3 separate regions of the Homo sapiens genome follow, and regions 1 and 2 are each linked to region 3. The links come from fine-mapping of genetic effects on gene expression. A gene starts in region 3. Each other region holds a variant in brackets. All regions are shown on one strand. Distances are from middle to middle.

Region 1 (2,758 bases), 120 kb before region 3:
TAGGAAGTCCTCATGTCTCAATGTGGCTGAGAATGACCATCAGATGCCCACTGAGAGTGATATTCTTTTTACTAAGCTTCTGCCATGGGGTGACAAAGAAGTGGAATATGGACATCCCCCGCCTTGCTCTCCACCATGACGGCGTCACTGGCTCAATGGAGGTGCCCTAGCACAGCTGTCAAAAGCTGGCTCTCAGCTCCAGCTGATGCCAGGAGCCAAACGTGGCAGAGCGCATGGTAAGAGCTCCTGAGGACTGAAACATACTCGCTGGCCCTTCCCGCAAAACCCCTGCTCTGCTGCAAACCTCTAGGAGGAGCCGTCTCTCTCTGAGGGTCAGGAGATGGTCTGGAGAGATGGTCCTTGCACTCTTGGGCAGCAAAGGCCCAGGGCTCTTGGGCAGGGCCAGTGAATCCCCTCACAGAGATGCACAGGGGTGACTGAGCTCCGGGGACTGGGAGAGTGGCGTGGAGGGCTGGGTTCGGAGCAAAGGGCTTCATCAGGGCACAGGGAAAGTGGGAACCAGCCTCGGTGAGCCTCACAGGAGGGAGGAGAGACTGTTTCTGACATGGAAAAACAGGCAAAGACAAGCCTGGGGTCTGTGTGGGCCCCAGATGCCTGCAAAGAACAATCCCAGGGAGCTGATGAGAGGAATCAGGGCCTGTGCATGATCGCAGAGCTCCACACTGGTGAAGAATGTCCTGAGAGCCACGCTGCTGTCCCCACATCCATGCCAGGCACAGTAACAAGACAGGCGGTGAGTACGTAAGGCTGGAGCCAGGAAGCAGGGTAAAGAAGGCTCTCTACCCAAGCCATGCCTGGTGTATTTTTTTAAGCCCCAGTGACTCTTTTGATTGCAAAAGTGAATTTTAAAATAAATTTGCATATTCTAAAAAGACACACGGACATGTGGGGAGCAGGGCCGGAAAGGTGTGCCTGGATGAGGAAAACAGTGCATTGGGATACAGCACAAGAGGAGGTGAGACTCACCATTTCCAGCTCCTTGTGAGCATCCAAAGCAGTGCACTCCCGCTCAGACCTCTCTTCTACCCTCTTCAGGATGTTCTATGCACAGAGAAAGGCTGCGTTAACTTTAATCTTTTCTGGTCTTTCCTCCCATTTCCCACCTTGACCGTGACTACCTCCCTACTGCACCAGTCCAGCCCCATGCTGCAGCATGCACACACACACACACGCACGCACGCACACGCATACATGCATGCACACATGCATACAGACCTGCGTGTGCACACACGTGCATACATGCTCGCACACACATGCACACCATGCACATGATGCACACCTGCAAGCAGTGTGCACACATGCACACCGTGTAGAAACATGCATACAAGCACACGTGCACACATGCATGCACACACGTGCATACATGCTCACACATGCACAACACGATGCATGCACACTTGCAAGCACAGTGCACACACATGTACACACGTGTACAAACATGCATACAAGCATGTGTGCGCACACATACATGCATGCACATACATGCATACCTGCACACACACACGCATGCACGCACACACATACACACAGCCTCCATCTGACAAATGGAGAGCAAGAGAGCCC[G/A]CAGGTGTGGCACCCAGCAGTGAGGACTGTCACGCTTAGGGTCAGCTCTGTCCCCAAGGGGAGCTAAATGCTTACGGGACAGGGGTAGGGGGACCAAGGGCTTCCCTCTCCTCCCTGGGACTGTCATTTGGCCCCGAAACTTTGTTAACTTTGGTCTTCTCCATGAAAGTGTAAGAAAGAGTCTCTTCTCCAACTGTTCAATTTTCTTCAGTTAACAAAAAATTATGCCCATACTGCTTTCACCTGTAAATTACGATTTTGACATTGCTCTATAAACTCCACATGGTTTCCTCTTAGCGGTCCCCACCATGCCCACGTTTTCTGACTGGCTTTTGTCCTGTAAGTAGGCTGGGTGCATCTGGGCACCAACCACCTGTCCTCCCGGCTGCTGGGTGCCACGGCAGCACAGATGTCTCCCCTGACAGCAGCCCAGGCCTCTCCTGTGGTCACCTGCCCGCCTCTGCCTGGCAGCCAAGCCAGAGACCTTCGAGACCCACAGCCACCTTCCTGCTTTTTCCATCCTGTATGTGGCCACCATGCCTGTCATTAACTGTCCCCCTACTTCCAAATCCCTGCTGAACAGCACGGTTTAGACGCCATCTTTTCTCACAGGCATAAAAGCTGCATCTGACCAGGTGGCATTGGTGGCCTCAGATGGAGGGCAGTATGGGTTCCTTAGCCTGGCACGTGCTCTCCCACGCCAGCCTCCACTCGGTGTGTCCCCAGCATGCTGCCTGATGTGGAGACTTGCCGTTCTCTCTGGAATGGTCCCTGACCCGCCACCCCTTTCTCTGAGCCCTTCCCTGAGTGCCCACCCCAGCTGTCCCCATTCCACCATTTCCTAATCACTGCATTTCCATTGCTTTTAATCTTACTGTTGGTTTTCATCTTATAGAAGCTAAGGTTTTAATATATTCATATATGCACTTTCCCTATAAAATGTCCTAAAATATTTTTCACTGCATAATTAGGAAATGTTACTGTCTTCTGTTTCACTTTTTCCAAGTTAAAAAAATATTTCCCACGGAACTGCGTTCATCACAGGTGTCTTCCGGTTTGGGGTCGCCATCCCGGCTTTGCCCTCACGTTCGTATCTCCATTAGCCCTGGGCCAGGGGCTTCTCCTGACAACTGCTTCCTTGGCCTCATGCTCCCAAACCCTTTCCTCCTGGGTC
Region 2 (2,758 bases), 110 kb before region 3:
GTCACTCATATACACGTTCACTCACATTCACTCACACACACACGCTCTCACACTCATGCACACATTCACTCACACACACACATGCTCTCACACAATCACCCACAGAGGCACTGGGAGCCACGCTGCCCGTGGGGCCAGGACCAGGACCTGAAGCCAGGTGAGCAGGCCCCCTCTCAGGCAGCGCGGGCCACGGGGCTGCTCTGGGGTGGTGACGTCCGGCGGCCTCAGATCAGCCAGGTCCCGGAGTTAGGGCCGCCTACACCACCCTGTTCAAGTCACACATTTGAAAAACAAAAGAGACCCATCAGCAAGAGGTCACAAAAGAGGAACCAGGACACCAAGAAAAGTCTGCAGGAAGCCAACCTGCTCCTGATGGAGAAAGGCGGAAGCTTTACCAGCTCTAACACCCAAAGAGCGACGGGCTTTTACGCAGCCCGCGGGCCCCAATTCCCTGTTACTTAAGGCAGTTCAGCTTGTCCTGCAGTTCACGGTCAAACATGGGCCATGCTGCCTGGCCGGCCGGGACTACAGTGTCTGTCCTCGGAGTCCCACTCCTGCCTCCGCACTCGGATCAACCCTGCGTTCCCCACCCTCAGCAAAGCTCGAGGCTGCGCGATTTCTCCTCCCCGCTCTTTACCTACACGGTCTCCTTATGATCCAGGGTTCGCCGTGGACCTCTGGGCCGTGCATTCCAGCCTGATTTGGGTTGTTTTTTTGGCTTCTCCCGACCCCTGTGTTAACAAATCACTGCTGTCTCTGATGCTGTGACCTTCGATGCGTTGTTGCAGCTGCGTCACCAGGGTGACATCTGCGGGGGTCGGAGCCAAAGGCCAGCAGACCGTGGACTGAAGGGCGGGCTCACTGGCTGCCCTCCACCTTCCTCACGGCCAGGAAACAAAACGTAGCCCCTTCCCCACAAGGGTTCTGCGAGGTCCCTTCCCATCCACCCGTGTGCCAGGCCCTCCCCACACAGGTCACCCCCAGTCCTGGGCATCAGGGCACTGGCCTGGAGCCCAACTTAGTTCACTGGCTTTTGCCTGGAGGGAGGGAGGGGATGAAGAGAAGGCCAGGCAGAATGCCAAGGGTCTAAGGC[G/A]TCCTTCCGGGACTCCCTTAGAGGCTGTGGGGACGTCGCCGTGACACCTCAGCACAGGCCCTACCATCCAGGCTCCGTGTCTCCAGTATGCTGCTGGGAGCTATCAGGGCCACCTGGGCCGCTGAAGACCCGGCCTCAGTCTGTCCTCGGCAGGGCAGTGGCTGGGGTGTGTGTGGTACGGGGATCACCATGGCCCACTCCTCTCTCTCCTCTAGCAGCTGGGGCCAGAGCCAGAGCCAGGGGCGCAGGGCGCTCCCAAGCTCTCCACTCTCTGCTCCTGCCCCACAGAGTCCTCTTGCTGCAGCCGCCCTGGGGTGATTCACATCCTCTGTTCCCCAGGATGACTCAACAGCAAGGTCACAAAGTTGCCTCGGTGCCTGCTGCTGGTGCAGTCATTTACACTGCAGGCATCAGGATGCACGGAAGTGACTTTAAAAGGCTTCCAGTTAAGAAGAAACCCCTCAAAGGCTATCCTCCTTCTGCAGACAATGATGATGAAGTCGGACTCCAGAGCCAGAGCCCGAGCCCAGCCCGCTGCAGCGCAGTCTTTAGTGAATTCGAGGCCGGACTGAGCAGGTCCCGTGAGCAGCGTGGGGAGTGGGGGCTTGGCTGTCTGATGGGGGAGTGACAGCTAACCCCTTGGGTTGCTAAGGGACGAGGGGAGTCACATATTCAACGCAGCCATGGGATGCAGGCGCTGGGGGCCCAAACCCAAGCCTCGGCACTCACACACATCACAAATGCCAATTACTACGTTTTCTCAAGATGACCTGTTAATAAAATCATTCGCAAAAATGTTTACATGCTAAAATAAGTGTGTGTAAATTTAAAAAGACACATGCTTGAGAACATGTTCAGCCTGCCTCATGGCAAGAGAAATGTTATGTTAAAACCACAACGAGGCCGGGTGCGGTGGCTCACACCTGTAATCCCAATACTTTGGGAGGCCCAGGCGGGTGGATCACCTGAGGCCAGGAGTTCGATGGCCAACATGGTGAAACCCCGTCTCTACTAAAAATACAAAAGATTAGCCAGGCATGGTGGCCGGTGTCTGTAATCCCAGCTACTTGGGAGGCTCAGGTGGAAGAATCACTTGAACCTGGGAGGTGGAGGTTGCAGTGAGCTGAGATCGCGCCACTGCACTCCAGCATAAGTGACAGAGTGAGACTGTCTTAAAACAAAACAAAAACAAAACAAAACAAAAAATGTTTAATCTAGCACACTGGGTAAAGAGAAAATAGCTGGGTAAGGCACCACATTAGTGGCAGGGGACCAGCACACTCATATGTGGCTAGTGTGTGAAGGCAATTAGGCGATACCCTCTCAAAATTTAAAGAACATTTAACCTTTCACCCAACAATCCCACTTAGCAATTCCCTTAGCATTCCACTGTGTAGATGTTCAATCTTCCATGAGTATAAATAATGCTGCAATGAACACTCTCAGTACCCGGTATTTCCAACTGCAAATATCCATCAACAGGGACAGGTTAAATACATTATGGAACATCTAAACAGTGGAGCCCAGAAAACTGCAAAAATGAGGGTGCTCTATTTGGATGGAGATGGAAAGATATGGTCAGTATTTTAATACTAGTTTACATTTGTGTGACATGAGGGCACACACACACACACACACACACACCTGAATATGTGTCTGACGAGG
Region 3 (2,758 bases):
GAGAGTGCGGTGGAGGGAGGTGGTCTGTGGTCTCCCTTCATGGACCAGAAAGCTTGACCCCCAAGGGGACCCTGGCTTCTACTTCCTCAGAGCTAAGCAGTGCCAAGGGGCAGCCTGAGACATGGGCAAAGGGGAAGCCTAAATGGAAAAAGAGAGAGAGAGAGAGAGAAAGAGAGAAGGGGCAGGGAGGACAAAGACACATGGCAAGTGTCCAAGCTGGAACATTCCCACCAGTGGCCTTATTGCATTAAGGATTTTCCCAAAAAGCAGAAATACACTGATAGTCAATGGAACATAGCAGAGCTGTCACGAGCCCAGGAAACACAAGTCCCACCTCTACACAGCCAGAGACTGTGTGACTGTCCCAAATTTTAAATCAAGATAGACAATAAGAACCTACCACTTTCACATCCAAGAAAACTGTGTCCCTACACATTTCAGTCACACCGTGCTGTGGCTTGAGGCCAGCCAGATGCAAAAATCAGGAAGGTTCTGAGGGGTAGGGCCTTCTGTCTTTCTGAAAGGGGCCCCTGAGCGGAGGGGGCAGTGCTGGGGGAGCTAAAGCGCAGTGGGCTGTCACTTCACGACTATGACTTCTGTTTCCCAAGTGCACTTCCTGACCCTGAGATTTGTGCCATGGCACACAGGAATCAGGGCACTTCCGTTTACATATACGCTCATTATCAGGACTGGCGTCGTGGGTGTGGGGCCTGGGCAGTCACAGGGCCCTGTTCTTAGAAGGTGCCCCGGCTTGCTTTAATGCTGTGTTGTTGTCCTTTTGAAAGCCTTACTATTTTAACAAGGGGCCCTGCATTTTTATATTGCACAGGGCCCTGCAATTATGCAGCCATTCCTGCTTTTGATCTCACTTACCCCACAGCCATAATGGAAGAGCGCCTGGAAGGAGTCCTTATCCTGATTCCCAGATGGTGAAACTGAGTGCCAGGAGGGGCAGTGCTGAAGCCGAGACCAGACAGGATCCCTCGGGTGGAATCCAGGGCTGCTGTTTCTCTTGGGGGCTCCTCCTCAGTGAATGGATGGGTGGTAATCTCCTTTCCTACCTGTCCTAGCGGTAGCCTCTGTTCCTTCTCTTGTTTTATCTCATTTTATTTTTTTAAAAAATACCAAAACCATTCTCTCACCTGCCAGAGAGGAGCTCATAGGAGTTGGGCTTCCTCAGAGAGTGTTCCTCCCTCGTCCCCTGTCCTGTCCAGGCACCTGCGAGCAGGATGGTGTGTCCCCGGCTAAATCCACAGGCGCTCCACTCTGTCCCAGAGAGCCCACAGCCAAAAACTTCGTCCTGTCCTGGAAAAGCTTCACTGGTAAGCATTCCCGACCTTTAGACCTGCCTTGGCCCATAGCTGGCCACGAGCCCATAACGATCACTTCCCGGCTGGGTGTTTACCTTCCTGGGCCCCATGGGTTGAGCCAGGGTGGCAGCCACATACCTGACACAAAAGTGGTGCAGGAGGGAAGGGCTATCTGAGGGGAAGGCTGGGCATGGCTGGAATACCCGCCGCCCGCCCAGTGCAAGATAATGCTGATGGTCACACCAAGAGGGGCCCGTGGCTCAGCTGGCCCACCAACCCCAAGCATTGGCCAAGCCAGCTGCACGGCCCTCAAATCTGAGATTTGGGAGAGGCTTTGGGGTCCTCCAGGGTTCTAGTCACTTCCTGCCATGGCCATCTGGCCTTAACTCAATCACTTCCAGGCATGGAACACTCACTGCTTTGTAAGGCATCTTGCTCCATTATTATTATTATTATTATTATTATTATTATTATTATTATTCCCTCTAATAGCTTCCTTTAATCCAGTGCTTACTACATGACAGGCACTGGGCTAAGTACATTACATAATCTATGTAATCCTTGTGTTGTCACTATGACCAGAGAATCATGCCCATTTTAAAGATGCAGAAACAGAGGCTCAAGAAATTGATCATCTTGCTCAAAGCCCCACAGCTAGTAAGTTGGGGATCCAGGATTCAAACCCAAGCCAACTAGTATCAAAACCACTACCATCATTTGCCAAGTTTAATTGCTACATCATCCATCTTTATATAAAACTCAAATCAGCGTTTGTTTTAGCTATCTGTTCTGGAAACAAATTAACTCAAAGTGTGTGGCTTGAAATAACACTCATTTGTCATCTCAGTTTCTGTGGCTAGAAGTCTGGGCACTGCTTGGCTGGGTTCTCTGCTCAGGGTTTCTCATAAGTTGCCATCCAAGTGTTGGAGGGGCTGAGGTCTCATCTCATGGCTCCACTAGGGGGGATCCACTTCCAAGCTGCTGGTGTTGGCAGGATTCAGTTTCTTAGGGCTGTAGGATGAAGGCCTCAGCCCCTCTCAGCTGTCAGCTGTGGCCACTATCAGTCCTTTGCCATGTGGGCCTCTCCGCCCTGGCAGCTCGTTGCATCAGAGAGGGCTATGGAGAGAGTCTGGGAAGAGGTAGGTCAGTCTTTTGTAATATACTCAAGGATGTGATATTCCATCACTTCTGGCATATTCTACTCGTTAGAAGGAAGTCATCAGGCACAGCCTACACTCAAAGGTAGGGGATTACACAGGGCACAATACCAGGGGTGGGGGTCCCTGAGGGCCATCTTTGAAAGTTCCCACAGCCATCTGATTGCCACAAAACATGGGTTTCAGTTTTGTCCCTGAAAGCCAGATTGAAGTAGTCTCTCATCTATTCTCTCACCCATCCATCCACCCATCCACCCATCCATCCACCCATCCACCCATCCATCCGTCCAT

Which allele goes with the higher level. Positions count from the first base shown, and alleles are read on the strand shown. Sizes are in standard deviations (SD) of each study's normalised expression. Not every link is listed here.
For the expression in testis of the gene that starts at base 1,331 in region 3, allele A in region 1 goes with a higher level than allele G (small effect, 0.22 SD a copy in GTEx).

What was found. PIP is the estimated chance that this variant, and not a neighbour inherited with it, causes the effect. A credible set is the group of variants that fine-mapping cannot tell apart.
Region 1: its variant is the best candidate, but not a certain one, in a credible set for the expression of NGEF in testis (GTEx, PIP 0.70).
Region 2: its variant is the best candidate, but not a certain one, in a credible set for the expression of NGEF in adrenal gland (GTEx, PIP 0.82).

The regions. Positions count from the first base shown.
Region 1 is chr2:232,887,046-232,889,803 of GRCh38, forward strand. NGEF (neuronal guanine nucleotide exchange factor) reads right to left here. Exons shown (of 15, transcript NM_019850.3): 9 at 988-1,062. Among named protein-coding and RNA genes, the nearest start is that of SNORC, 18 kb to the left of the region's middle. The variant G/A (reference allele first, on the strand shown) is at 1,585.
Region 2 is chr2:232,900,725-232,903,482 of GRCh38, forward strand. The region is part of intron 5 of NGEF (neuronal guanine nucleotide exchange factor); the gene reads right to left. Among named protein-coding and RNA genes, the nearest start is that of SNORC, 32 kb to the left of the region's middle. RefSeq lists enhancers at 1-310, 311-934, 816-2,015. The variant G/A (reference allele first, on the strand shown) is at 1,094.
Region 3 is chr2:233,011,926-233,014,683 of GRCh38, forward strand. NGEF (neuronal guanine nucleotide exchange factor) reads right to left here and starts at 1,331. Exons shown (of 15, transcript NM_019850.3): 1 at 1,143-1,331. LOC101928881 (a long non-coding RNA gene) reads left to right here and starts at 689. Exons shown (of 3, transcript NR_136325.1): 1 at 689-1,044; 2 at 1,215-1,322.